Homo sapiens: one gene and its partner. The protein of the gene in region 2 interacts with the protein of the main gene of each other region in a pairwise test. Each region holds a gene or a part of one and is shown on either strand. Other genes may lie near its edges.

Region 1 (7,026 bases), on a different chromosome or scaffold from region 2:
AACAGTGAGTTAGTGGTTATCTCTAAGTGGTGAATTTTTAAGAAATTTTTACTCCATATTTATACTTTCATGATTGTCTGAATTTTTAAATGAACTATGTATTTTTTCATTTGGGGACAGAAAAGCACAATAAGGTCATTATAATGCCTATGAACAGGGCTGGACAAAGCTCTAGGAAATGTCTAAAGACAGAACTAAAAAATGGAATGACAGTGAGTGGTACAAAAGCCTGGGTTCTAGATATTTTTGACCCAGCAGTTCATTATTATTAAGCTTCTGTAACTGTTCATCATATGTGAATTGCCCAGCTCTAGAATGCTTATAGGATGGGGTGTGCATGTAACCATCTATTACTAAATATCACCAGGTTCTGAAGTTACCAAGTCAAGGTTATTGGGAGCTAATAAACTGAAGAAACTCAACATTAATTAATGAATGCCTGAATGGATAAAAGGAAGCTACTAGGAATGAATATAAAGACAGGCAGTTAAAAAAAAAAAAAAAGAAAGATGAAATGATGAATGAAAGCATAGGCACAAATTTGACATCATTAGCACAGAAAGCTCCAAACAACATGCTGTGAACCAAGAGTTTAAGTAAACAGTCTCCGTCCCTTTTCCCATATTCTAGTTTCCTGTCATTGTTTCCAATTCATTTTTTCATGTCATCTTCAAGTTTATACTCCATTTTATTTTTATGCTTTTGTGATATGTAAGAAGATTTATATATGTTATTTTTATCCTGGTCTTTCCTGGTACACAGCTCCTAAAACCCTTAGAATTGCCAAAATGATAGGTGTCCTTTTGTATGCTGTTGAGATGACTGGTAGCTAGGGGCTCCTGCACAGCATCAGTATGAGGGCTAGTTGCCAGGGGAATCAACCAGAGGGTTGGAGCTTCCAGCTTCATCCCTGGACCCCCAGGGAAGGGGACAAAGGCTAAAGGTTGAGCTGATCACCAGTGGCTGATGATTTAATCATTCGTGCCTACTTCATGAAGCCTCCATAAAAATCCACAATGACTAGGTTCAGAGAGCTTCTGGATAGCTGAACACTTGGAGATGCCTGGAGGGTGGTGCCCCTGGAAAGGGCATGGAAGCTCCACACTCGTTCCCACATACCCTGCCTTTTCCATCTTTTCACCAGACTGTTCTTCTGTAGCCTTTGTAATATCCTTTATAATAAACTGGTAAATGTATACAAAGCACTTTCTTGAGTTTTGTGATGTTTGAAACCAAAGGTAGTGCTAGGGCTGTTGCAGGAACTCCCAATTTATAACTGGTTGTCAGATGTACCAAAGGCCTGGACTTGCAACTGGCATCTGAAGTGCGGGACAATCTTGTGGGACTGAGCCCTTAACTTCTGGGACTGAGCCCTTAACTTCTGGAACCTGACTTTACCTCCAGGTACTATCAGAATACAATTGAATTATAGGATACCCATTTGGTGTCCTCTGGAAAACTGCTGGTATAAGAAACCCCCCTATTTGGTGACAGAAGTGTGCTGAGTCTGAGAATAGGAAAAATGGCTTGATTTTTCTTATCTCATACAAGCTTTGAACATAGCAACAGAGTTAAAGAGATAGCAAGTCCATAAACTCTAATTTCTCTATGCTTCCATCCATAAATCAACTCTCCCAAATCTCTAAAGCAGTGCATTCAAAAAGTGAGTCTAAAATGCATATTCTCACCCTTGTCTCGAACTCTAGGGGATAGCTTACAATCTGGAATTGTAACAAGTACTCCAGATCATTCTGATGCAATTGTTTGTTGCAGTTAGGTAACAGGTAGCAACAATTAGAAAATGCCCTTTACAAAGATCCTTAACTTTTATTCATTAACCCATCCTAATCATTTAAAAAGGCCTAGGGAAAACAAACAAACAAACGTACCTTTTTCCTTAATCGAGCAGCATTTACCAATTCGCCATTATGTGCCACAGCTATCTTCCCATGAAGTGTTTCAACAACGAAGGGCTGACAATTTTCTAGTTCACATTTTCCTGTGGTGGCATACCTGGTGTGTCCAATTCCAAGATTTGAAACATATAATTTTTTCAAATTGTCTTCAGTAAAGACGTGATTTACAAGACCCATTCCCTTGAGAAATCAAAAAGTGCAACTTAGAAAAAAACAGACTAGTACTGCTAGTAATAAACGCCTCTCTTCTCTGCCCAGCCAATCCAAATAAGACAAAGAAGTACATTTAATATCTCTGTGTTTCAGAATTCTAATCTAAAAAAAAGTCAAAAACAAATAACCTAATTGTAAGAACTGTGAAGCACTTACTTAAAAAAATTTACTGAGGCAAAAGTCACATACCATAAAATTAACCATTCTAAAAAGAACAATTTAGTGGCATTTAATACCTTCACAATGTTGAAGCACTTGTGTTTCATAAGATACTATTCACTAAAACATTTAAGAACAGATGTAGTAAGCAATAAAATTTGTCAAGTATAAAAACTAAAATTTGCATTAAAAAAATCAAAGCATCTTAAAGCATTTAAATAAATGACCCCCTATTTGAGTTGGTCTTAGGCAAAAAAGTATAACTGGGGAAGAAATACATCCTAATTTGACAAATGTTAGGATATAAAGTTGAAAGTGGCTGATCCAAAGAATATTACTTTTGATTGCAAATTATTTATTCAAATCCCCCTCCCCATATTAATGATCATCTGTCTTTGTTATCTTTGTCATCCCATTTCTTTTTTCTTTCTTTTTTTTTTTTGAGATGGAGTTTCACTCTTGTTGCCCAGGCTGGAGTACAATGGCGCAATATCAGCTCACCACAACCTCCGCCTCCCAGGTTCAAACGATTCTCTTACCTCAGCCTCCCAAGTAGCTGGGATTACAGGCATGCGCCACCACGCCTGGCTAATTTTGTATTTTTAGTAGAGACAGGGTTTCTCCATGTTGGTCAGGCTGGTCTTGAACTCCCGACCTCAGGTGATCCTCCTGCCTTGGCCTGCCAAAGTCCTGGGATTACAGGCATGAACCACCGCACTTGGTCTGTCATCAACATTTCTTAAAGTTCAAATTTACCTTGTGTGATTTGAATGTTGGCACCGAACTCCCATCACTAGTCACAATACCAGCACTCTCCTGACCCCTGTGAATATAAAAAGATATTAGCTGTTAAATCTGCCAATTGATTAGCTTCTTGAAGAACTTTATCAAGCATACTTTCTCAACAAGCATCCATGAACTTAGTGTGACAACACATTAAATGCTACTTGTACTAGCACTACTTCTATTGATGATGCTGATGCTGATGATTAGCAATCACAGCAGATGACAATGTAACAATTAGATATCTCATCTAATATTAACTAACATGCCAGGCAGTCTGTCCTAGCATTTTACGTTGTAAAAATAAATAATTTAAAAGCTATTGGAACCCCAAATATACTTTAGGCCTTGAGAGAGATATGACTGTGATCCAAGTCACATATGGTTACAACTTCTGTTTCTCAGATTATAGATTAACTCACTTTCTTATTTTTCTTGTTCTATACAATGACTAGAGAGAATTAAAAGACATCAGAGACAGCCGGGTACGGTGGCTCACGCCTGTAATCCCAGCACTTTGGGAGGCTGACGTGGGCGGATTACAAGGTCAAGGCTGGAGACCATCCTGGCCAACATGGTGAAACCCTGTCTCTACTAAAAATACAAAAATTAGCTGGCCATAGTAGCACACGCTTGTAGTCCCAGCTACTCAGGAGGCTGAGGCAGGAGAATTGCTTGAACCCGGGAGGCGGAGTTGCAGTGAACCAAGATCGCACCACTGCACTCCAGCCTGGGCGACAGAGCGGAGACTCCGTCTCAAAAAAAAAAAAAAAAAAAGACATCAGAAACAATAACCTCCTGCCTTCTCAAGTGATGAGCTTTGTTAAAGATTAACTCCTAGGTGGAGGCGGGTGGACCACGAGGTCAGGAGATCGAGACCATCCTGGCTAACACGGTGAATCCCCGTCTCTACTAAAAATACAAAAAATGAGCCGGGCGTGGTGGCGGGCGCCTGTCGTCCCAGCTACTCCGGAGGCTGAGGCAGGAGAACGGCGTGAACCCAGGAGGCGGAGCTTGCAGTGAGCTGAGATCGCGCCACTGCACTCCGGCCTGGGCGACAGAGCGAGATTCCGTTTCAAAAAAAAAAAAAAAAAAAGTTAGCTTTTGTTTTGTTGTCCTGCTTTGCTAGACCAAATGAAAGAAAACCCATTAACATCCTCTGTAAAAAAATGTTAAATGTACCCTTCCCCAGAAGAACCACCACCTATAACAATCAAACTGCTGTAACTGGGCGCGCTAACCTTGTATAAAAAATGTTGTGATTCTGCTAAAAACTCCTCTGTCTGCCTATAGAAATGAAACCTTAACTTTCCTACTTTGCAATGCTGACTCCATTCCTTGGAGTTGGTGTTTCTGGGTGAGACATCCTCAAACTTGGTGCTTGAATAAACTCTCTCTAAATTAGATTCTGATCCTTTTAATTATTTAGGTCGATAGCATGCGTGATATAATTTGGTTTTCACAACAATCCTATGAAGTAGGTACTATGATTACCATGCCCATTTTACAGATAAACACACTAAAGCAATAGAAAGGAAGTTACTTTCCCATTGTCACACAGACAGCAGGTGGTAGCCAGGATTCCAATGCAGACAATCCAACTGCAGAATTTATGCTTCTAACCTCTACTCTTTATAACCCCTAAATAGGGTTTCAACAGGATGAGTATGTAGATGTAAATTAAAATCTCCAAATATAATAGAGGCAAAATGCATAGTTGGTAACCATTTTTTATGCCTTTCTGCATTTTCCAAATGTTCTCCAATAAATAGCACTTTTGCTATTAGAAAAAAAAATTTTGTTTCTGAAAACCCTCTGCTGACCAGGCACCCTTTCCCATGTCTGTGTCTCATTTCCTGCATTAGTGTTGATTAAGTGGTGATACAGAGAAAAAAGCCAAAATCTAGACTGAAGGTAGGGCAAGACATAGTAAAGACTAAGAGCATCCATACCACTGTGCAGTATAAACTCTCATAAAGGTTCCAACTGCTTTGCCATTTTTAATAGTTCTGAACAAGTGCTATAAATAGTAGATGTTTATTGACCAATTTTTGTTCCAAAGAATATATATCAGGATAGAAACAAAAAGTAAACCTCTTCCATATGTGCCTGTAGACTTTAGTAGCTGTTAATACATTGATTTATTTGGTAAAAAGGAACCTTTTTCAAAATTATATATTGCAATTGTTGCAGTGTTTTATTAACGAGAAAAATGACAACATTAAATATGTTGCCAAGTAAAACTCTAAAAAAACTTGGCATGATCACAGCTCACAGCAGCCTCAAGAAATGATTTTATTAAATGCATTAAATACTGAAAATAGATATGCATAATACTATATACCATATGGGACTAAATAAATTGACTTATGATTTCTTTTATTTAGTGAAATGCTGTGGGGTCTGTAAGTTAACCAATGTTAGAGGACTAGGTGATTCATGTCAGAGGAAATATATTATTAACATTGGCTATAGACCTCTTGGAAAAAGCCTCTGCCAACCATTTTCAAAACAATTTTTAAAAATCAACAATCATTTGGTAAAACAGTAAATTATGTAAGAAAAGAAATACACAAAAAACGGTTTTCTTTCCCTTTTGTCTCAAGGGAAGTTTTTCCTTCAGGCTGAAATGATATAGTTAAGAATCATTTAGATCCAGGCTTCTTTAATCACAAAGCCTGCTTATTTGGCAGTTTCTCAAGTTACTCCCTCAGGCAGCTTGAACCAGTTAAACTACATCCTTTCAGCTCTTCGGAGCTTATTGACAACCAGCCATGTGGTTTCCTAGGAAACAAAACCTTGGCTGGAAATAGTGAATCATTTCCAGGTCACTTTCAACATGGAGAGTGGAGCAGGAAAGCACTGGACTGAGGAGGAGGTTAAAGCTTTGCTAAGTGTCTGGGCAGAAAAAAATATACGAAAACAACTTTATGGAACACTAAGAAATAAAGGAATATTTATTTACATTGCTAAAAGGCTGCAATCATTAGGAGTATACAGAGACTGGAAACAGTGCTGGGCTAAGTACAAAAATCTCAAATATGAATATAGAACAGTTAAATATGCCCATAACTCTGGAGACAGCTCTAAAACTATGAAGTTCTTCCATGATTTGGATGTAATCCTGCAGTATGAACCTGCCACACAATTTACAGAGGAAGATGCAAATGGCAGGTACCTGGAAACGCTCAGCCCAAGTACAGCCCCAGAGACCACTGAAGGTAAAAAAAAAAAAAAAAAAAAAAAAAAAAAGAAAAGTACTCTTGTTTTTCTTTTGTTTTACAGTTTTATGAACTGTAAAAGTTCAGGACTTCTGTGGCCATATGATAAATATAGACTGAAATATCAAGACTGTGGAAAAATAACCAATTTATTATGCTATTTTGCACAAGGTTAAGAATTTTTTTAAAAAGAGGTTAAATATTACCACTTTAAAAAAATCTGTAAAATACAGAAAAAGCACATTACAATGGCACTGACTGCTAGTGCCAACTGCATGTGATATGTTTTTGAAATATGGATTGAGTTCTAAAAATAGTTTAAGTTTTAATTTTATAAGAGTGGTAAATAAGGGGAAAAATATCAAAAACATTGCTCAACTGATGTTTTTCCACAGCTCCAAACAAGAACTTTCTCCTTTATTTAATTTGCGTTTTCCTAAATTTATAAATAAAAGCACATTTAAAATAACTGTTCTACACTATTTCATTACTTGTTTACAAGAACAGCTCCATTTTAACAATGAAGAAGAACAGCTCCATTTTAACAATGAAGTATAATGAAGATTTAGTACATGAAATGATCTGAGACTAAGTGATTTACAGGGGTTTCTTGACGTGCTGTGTTGTTAAACCCAACACTATTTACATAGAATCTACTCATTGTCTGTGGAAGCATTAGTAGGCAAAGGGAGGGAAATCAATGACAGTAATGAGATGTCTACCATAGTCTAAAT
Region 2 (7,385 bases):
TGTGCCATTTATGGTAAAAAATTTGGGTACCCACAATTGAATTCACTTATGGGTTTTTTTTTCATTCTCTTCAGGTGTGGCAGTTGGGTGGGCAGGGAGTAATTAACGTTTACTGAAATTATGCTACTTGGTGATCTCCAGGAATCATTTAGCAGGTGGTTTAAAATCCTCACATTTAATGCTGGTTGAGCAAGAGTGAACTGACTGTAATGACCCTTGGGAAGGTGAATTGGTTACAGACGTATAGTAACGACACTGTAAAGATAGTCCAGGCAGGAGATGACAGGTCTGGAGTAGAGTGGTAGCCGTGGCAAAGTGACATTTAATTTCCACGAAGACAGTTTTAAGGGAGACTGGGACATCGGAAGAAAAAAGGGGTGATGCAGAGCTCAAATCTGTACACGCTTGTTTGAGGTGATAGCAGACATCCAGATGAAGAAAACCAGCAGACAGGTGAAAATCTTAATCTAGGATGATTAGTCATGCTATGGATTCAGAGAAAGAAATGTGTTTTTTCATTACTTCATTAGGAATTGCACAATAAATCTCCTCCCCCATAATCACATGACTACTGACTTTTCAGCATGCAGGAGAAAAAGCAAATATTTCCACTGTTGAAAGGTTTTATTGGAGAAACTTGATGAATACAATGACTTCATGGCTTAGTGAAGACAACCACGGTGGTTAAAATACAGTGAACCCTCATTTAGCTGTATCCATTCAAAGTATTTGAGCATCTCCTATGTATAATGTCAATTTATTTGATGCTGGTTAAATGTGTAACAAGTTACTTAAAACCAACTGTAATACCAAAAAGTCATTGAACACACTTCTAAAGTATACTGCCTGAATAAAAGGTATCTATAAAAATTCCTTCCCTGTAGTATCTATATATTTAAGCTTACAAACTTAGCTGCTTTTCTACACACAACTGCAATTCTATATTAAAGCTTTGCAACTGCCTTAATCTCTACACTCTTTTTTTTTTTTTTCCCGAGACGGAAAAAAAAGAGTCTCGCTCTGTTGCCAGGCTGGAGTGCAGTGGCGCGATCTCGGCTCATCGCAACCTCCGCCTCCCGGATTCAAGCGATTCTCCTGCCTCAGCCTCCCGAGTAGCTGGGACTACAGGCATGCGCCAACACGCCCGGCTAATTTTTGATATTTTAGTAGGGACGGGGTTTCGCCATGTTGGACAGGCTGGTCAAACTCCTGACCTCAGGTGATGCGCCCGCCTCGGCCTCCCAGAGTGCTGGGATCACAGGCATGAGGCACCGCGCCCGGCCTATGCTCAAATGTTTCTTGGGCTGTTAAAGTACTGCTCCTCGCAGAAGGGCTATGTTCCCGGGATCTATTCTCTTCCGTACATTCATTCCTATCTTCATTAGAAAACATCTGACCTAAATAAATCCCCCATCGATGCTAACATCTCCTTCCGCGCAATTTTTTACTTTCTAAGTCAAATCAAAACAATTATTTGAGCGACTGCTCCTGTCTGCCATTAAGTCTTTCTGGCACCACCCTCCAGACATATATACAATATTGCTTCTTTCCCTCAAATCAGAAAGGACTGCATAGTTCCGGATCAAGGCATAAATGATGAATCATGACTGTCCATCCCCACCAACATACTCTGCAACATTATAATCTATTTACCTCTGCTTTGAAAATGTATTCTTTAAAGCACTGCTTCCAACTAGCCACTTAGCCAGTAACATTTTTGAGAAAAACAAAACACAACCCAAAACAATGTATATATTCCTGGGGGGAAGAGTTTCTAACTCAAAATACGCAGATAATTGTTTATTATTCTAAGGAACACCCTTCTGAAGAGGCCTGCAGTCGGTGGGGCTGTTTCTAATTTAAAACTACTTAGGTGAACCAGGAAGAATGTACATTTAAGGAGATACTTTTAGACGCAGATGCCTCGCGCAAGCCTAAAGCTCGTGTGGTAAGCGACACGACTAGGGGTTAAAAGCGGCTGGTTGGTAGGCCCGGGGCCGTGGCTCACGCCTTGTAAACCCAGCACTTTGGGAGGCTGAGGCGGGCAGATCACCTAAGGTTAGGAGTTCGAGACCAGCCTGGCAAATATGGTGAAACGCCGTCTCTACTAAAAACACAAAAATTAGCCGGCGTAGTGGCGCGCGCGCGCTCTCAGCTACTCGAGAAGCTAAGGCAGGAGAATCACTTAAACCCAGGAGGCGGAGGTTGCAGTGAGCCAAGATTGCGCCACTGCACTCCAATCTGGGCACAGAGTGAGACTCCGTCTCAAATAAATAAATAAAAGCAGCTAGTTACTTCTCATTCTTTTAACGAAACAAACAAAACTGAACTTTGCTGGGTGACAGGAGTGAAGCAAAGGAAAAAACGATAGTACAAGTTCGATTCGAATTCTTCCAGTCTTATGATTCGATCATCGCAGGAATACTGATAAAAATCTGCGTTTTTTCCAGGTTGACAACTTTTGCGAGGCCAGACTAAACGAATTCAGCGCTCCAAGGAGACTCCTCTTTCCTCTGCTTTCTCACATTTACCTCTCGCCTTTTACCTCCCAAAGTCGAACCCTCCAGGATCGTACAGGCGGTATTCCCTCTACCAAGCATTCTACTCCTCTGCAGATGCTGCAATCTTTACACTGGAACTAACACTTAGCTGTGGTGTTCCCCGCTTTCTTTACTCGGAGTAGCCCAGGCTCTTCCTCTCCAATCCACAATTTCCCTCCAATCCCCAGTTTCCCTCTTGGGCGCCTGGACGCGTGCCCAGCCGCAGCCTGGGAGACACCGCGCGGCTGCACGCACCATGCAGATGTGGTCCCTTTCCCCTTCTTCTTCTCCTCCCCAAAGAGGTTTTGTGCTGTGACTGGCTTGCCCCGGTTACTTACTCCAAGGTGTAGGGGTGAAGAACGGAAGAGGACGAAATAACTAGCTGGAGGCAGCAGTGTCAGCCGATGCCGGTGCCACGGCTCGAAACACCGGCGCCTCTCGCGGTGCTAAAAGGATGGGCGCGCACCCTCCTTCCGGCATCCGTAGAACCCCCGCCTTTGACCTAGCTTCAGGAGATTACTTTCCGGGTCAGCGTGCGTTTAGGGCGAAGACGGAGTTGTAAACTTCTTAAAATTCCTCTCTCGACACTTCGGTAATTCCTCTTTCGAGACTAAAGCTCTTTTTGTATGCGTGTGTGTCAAGCGTATGCCCCGGGATTCTCCTCCGCTTCCTTTTCTCGGTCTTCCTTCTTGCTTTAGGGACCGGAAGAGTCCTTGAACCAAAATAGCTCGGCGGGCACTTCCGGGGCCGGCGCCCAGAGTTCCGGGAGGGTGCAGGCAGGAGAGGGAAAGGCAGCAGCGGCGGCAGCTGGAGGATGAAGAAGGAGCATGTGCTTCACTGCCAGTTCTCCGCGTGGTACCCGTTCTTCCGAGGCGTTACCATCAAGAGGTGAGATGGGAGGGGGTTCGCCCGGTCGACCGGCAAAAGGGAACTGCGACTTCTGAGCGAATCTTACTGCTATCCAAAAAAATGCAGGCCTTCTAGCGACTGCATGGGAGGGAGTGTGTCGAGAGGGAAGTACATCAGCAATTGTCTGCGTCCTGTTGCGAGCCAGCGAGTGTGCTGGCTAGGAGGGTCAGTTGTGGTTTTCAGTGAGGGTCGGAGGCGGGAGGAATAGTGGATTAACCTAGTTTAGGCTTGGGAGTTCACCACCACTACTTTTAGAATGGCCCCAGGCGCAAGGTGATCACTGCCTAAGTGCACTCGGAGAATTAATTGCTTTTCGCCATCACCCCAGAGGATGGAGATTGGGAAGGTGAAAGGATACGTAATTACAGTTAGATACGAGAACAAGTTCACAGATATGTCGTACAGCATGGAGGCTATAGTTAATGACGATATACGTATTCTTGAAAAACGGAGAGTGGATGTTAGTGTTCTCACCACAAAAATAACTATGTTAGGCAATGCATTTGTTAGCTAAATTTATTCCACAGTGTATATATACTTAAAAACATCAGGTAGGCGGCAAGTATTAATATATACAATTTCATCTCTCAGTTTTTTTAAAGGCGTTGATAGAAAATCTGGGCTTTGCACTTAACTGATTTTCTGAGCCAACATTTCAGTAATTGCTGATTCATTATATGATGGTTTCATTCAATAAAGATCGGATATGTACTTGAAAATGTGTAACTGGCTTAGAATGGTTAAAATGTATAAGAAAAGTTTCAAGTTCTTAAATAGTATTGGAATGTGTGGTAGAACCTTAGATTCATTGTACTTAACAATTTCGCTTGTTAGCTTTGTAAGAGTAAAATACTTAGGAAGGCTTATTTGTAATCAGCAAATAGACATATTAAGAAAGAAAATTGAGTGGTTTATGAATAGAATTTAAAATTTTAAAGAGACTTTTAAGTTGCAAAGTTTCGCTTGAAATTGTTTAAAATTTAGTAGATTTTCAAACGTAATAAGATTTGTTAGAAGAAATTAAAAGCCTGAAGAACTAGATTTTTTTTTTTTGAGACAGAGTTTTGTTCTGTCGCCCAAGCTGGAGTGCAGTGGCAGCGATCTTGGCTCACTGCAAGCTTCCCTTCCCGAGTTCACGCCATTCTCCTGCCTCAGCTTCCTGAGTAGCTGGGACTACAGGCGCCCGCCACCACCCCCGGCTAATTTTTTGTATTTTTAGTAGAGGCGGGGTTTTCACCGTGTTAGCCAGGATGGTCTCGATTGCCTGACCTCGTGATCCGCCCGCCTCGGCCTCCCAAAGTGCTGGGATTACAGGTGTGAGCCACCGCGCCCGGCCAGAACTAGATTTTTGAATGTGAAATTGTACCTTTGATAAATCAAATATTTATTTTTAAAACCGAAGTTTTTGCTCTGTCGCCCAAGCTGGAGTGCAGTGGCAGTGATCTTTTATTTATTTAAAAATAAATAAAAATACTTATTTTTAAAACCGAAGTAGCCCATGAATACTCTTTTTTGTGCAAAAAAACCATTTGTAATGTGCCAAAAAAAACTTCTTCCATAAATAAATGAGACATGTTATAAGTCATTGATGTTCTGTTAACTTCGGGAAAGCAGGCTGTAATCTTTTCCACTTTTTGAAGATGTATATGCCTCAAAATCAAAATAATACCAGCACTCTTAGGGATCTGTGGTAGGGCTTTTTGATAATTTATTATTTCAAGGTAAAAAACAAATTATCCCATAAGTTTTTAAGAGACTTCAGGTATGGCTTTGCCATCCTTAATTATGATTACCTGAAACAAATTAAGCTAAAGCATGCCTAGTTTAAGCAGCTTTATATCTCTGGTGATCAGTTGAATAGAAAGCCAGCAAGACACATCCAAAAGTATCATGAATTCTTAGCGGTAGGTGCTCACTGCCAACCCAAGAATGGTTTCCAGATCTTGACTCTACTTCTGCCCTCTATCTTTAGAAGGTGACCAAATGCTAGTCATCTTCTAGTTGGGTTTGCTGCATTTCCTGTGTTGCAGCAAATATCTGCTGGTCTCTGATTTCTTAAAGACACATAAATGTTGTGCTCACTCAGAATCCTTTTGAGCTTGTTGCTTTCATACTGTGATTTCCATCTGGTGGTTTGGATTTGGCTGGTTTTTGTTTACTACAAAGACCATTGTGGCAATAAGATGAACCGCAGTAATCTTATTATTCTGATTTCTTGTCTACTGCTACCAAATGTACATCATTAACATTTTCTACTTTATATTAAAAGAAAGACAATTCCAAAATTAATCAAGTGTAGAGATTTTTCTCTCTGCTTATAGTTGGTCTTTTAAAATGATGCCTTTTTTGGTGTTTTTTTTTTAGTGTCATTCTTCCACTTCCTCAGAATGTGAAGGATTATTTACTCGATGATGGAACTCTGGTGGTTTCAGGAAGGTAAAGTATTTTAGAAAAAAATTTCTTAAACTTTATCATAAAGAAACACATAAAATGAATGAATTAGCTTAGGCACCATTCTTTCCCTTTAGCTCTTTTTCTCTCCTAGCCAAAATGATGTGCTGATCTTTGTCTCATATTCCTTCTCAATGTTCACTTAATATTTTCAACATTAAGTACTTTTCCCTCTAATAATTACAAGTTGTGAAATTGAGCAGTTCCTTTCATCTCTGTCTTTAGAAAACAGTTATGATGACAACTTTTCCTTCTGACGGTAGCAGGGTGGGGGAAGTACATATTAAAATTCTTTGAGATCCTTCAGTTTTGACGATTAAAAATTCACTGTTGCAAACAGGCTTTATCATCTAATTCCTCAACATTTTCTTCCCCACGATTGAACTACCGTGGCCCCCCCTCCACTTTCTAGAAGCTGTTCAGGTAGTTTCCCTATTTATAGAATAAAGGGAAGAAGTTACTGTGTTTCAGTCTTTTGGATGCAAACTTGAAAACGTTGAAGAATCATAGGATTTAGTGAAGTTCTCATTTTTTAATTCGAGTCTGCTCAGAAGTCACGTTATGAGTGTTCAGCCCTCACCAGCCTTTCTAAAATAGCCTGACAGTAACCCTATGCCCTGACCTCCCTTCATTTTTCTGCATAACACTTACTTCCACCTGACAATTGTTAATTGTTCCATTAGAATGCAGTTTCATGAAAACAGGGACTTGGCCCATTTGTTCACCCCAGCTCATGGAACAGTGCCTGATATAGCAGAAGTGCTTGATAAACATTTGTTGGATGAAGGAACTATAGAAATACAGTAAGAATTGTGTGTTTTCAGTACTACTAACTGGACCCCATATTTTTGCCTGTTGGGTTTTTAGTGTGGTTTTCTGGATTATATTTCTGTTTTTGGTATTCACAGAGCCTCAATAACCTGAAAATTATTAATGTAGCGCCTCATTAACTTTGAATAATTTGAGGCTGAGGAAACAGTAGGAAAGTCAGATAAGTCTCAACTTTAGGATATTTACAGATATAATTTTTTTTGTTTTGTTTTTCTTTTGAGACAGAGTCTCGCTCTGTCACCCAGGCTGGAGTGCAGTGGCGTGATCTCAGCTCACTTCAAGGTCTGCCTCCCGGGTTCACGCTATTCTCCTGCCTCAGCCTCCAAGTAGCTGGGACTACAGGCGCCCACCACCACGCCTGGCTAATTTTTTTTATTTTTAGTAGAGATGGGGTTTTACTGTCTTAGCCAGGATGGTCTTGATCTCCTGACCTCGTGATCTGGCTGCCTCGGCCTCCCAAAGTGCTGGGATTATAGGCCTGAGCCACCGCACTCGGCATTTTTTTTTTTTTTTTTTTTTTTAAAGATGGAGTCTTGCTCTGTCAGCCAGGCTGGAGTGCAGTGGCTCAATCTCAGCTCACTGCAATCTCTGCCTCCCAGGTTCAAGTGATTTTCTTGCTACAGCCTCCCAACTAGCTGGGACAACAGGTGTGCG

Evidence for each region. Proteins that work in one complex are often made in the same cells at the same time.
Region 1: the proteins of NUDT5 (region 2) and PPAT interact in binary tests that used the Homo sapiens proteins (3 or more experiments, as listed by UniProt).

What each region holds. Positions count from the first base shown.
Region 1 is NC_000004.12:56,404,606-56,411,631, forward strand, and holds part of PPAT (amidophosphoribosyltransferase), read right to left. Parts: intron 6,293-7,026; coding exon of another isoform or gene 5,911-6,292; exon of another isoform or gene 5,902-5,910; intron 3,112-5,901; coding exon 3,045-3,111; intron 2,097-3,044; coding exon 1,890-2,096; intron 1-1,889. Other genes in the region: PAICS (bifunctional phosphoribosylaminoimidazole carboxylase/phosphoribosylaminoimidazole succinocarboxamide synthetase), read left to right, coding at 5,911-6,292. UniProt on the Homo sapiens protein: Catalyzes the formation of phosphoribosylamine from phosphoribosylpyrophosphate (PRPP) and glutamine.
Region 2 is NC_000010.11:12,192,892-12,200,276, forward strand, and holds the start of NUDT5 (ADP-sugar pyrophosphatase), read right to left. Parts: upstream 3,001-7,385; 5' UTR 2,879-3,000; intron 1-2,878. Other genes in the region: CDC123 (translation initiation factor eIF2 assembly protein), read left to right, coding at 3,355-3,428, 5,814-5,885. UniProt on the Homo sapiens protein: Enzyme that can either act as an ADP-sugar pyrophosphatase in absence of diphosphate or catalyze the synthesis of ATP in presence of diphosphate.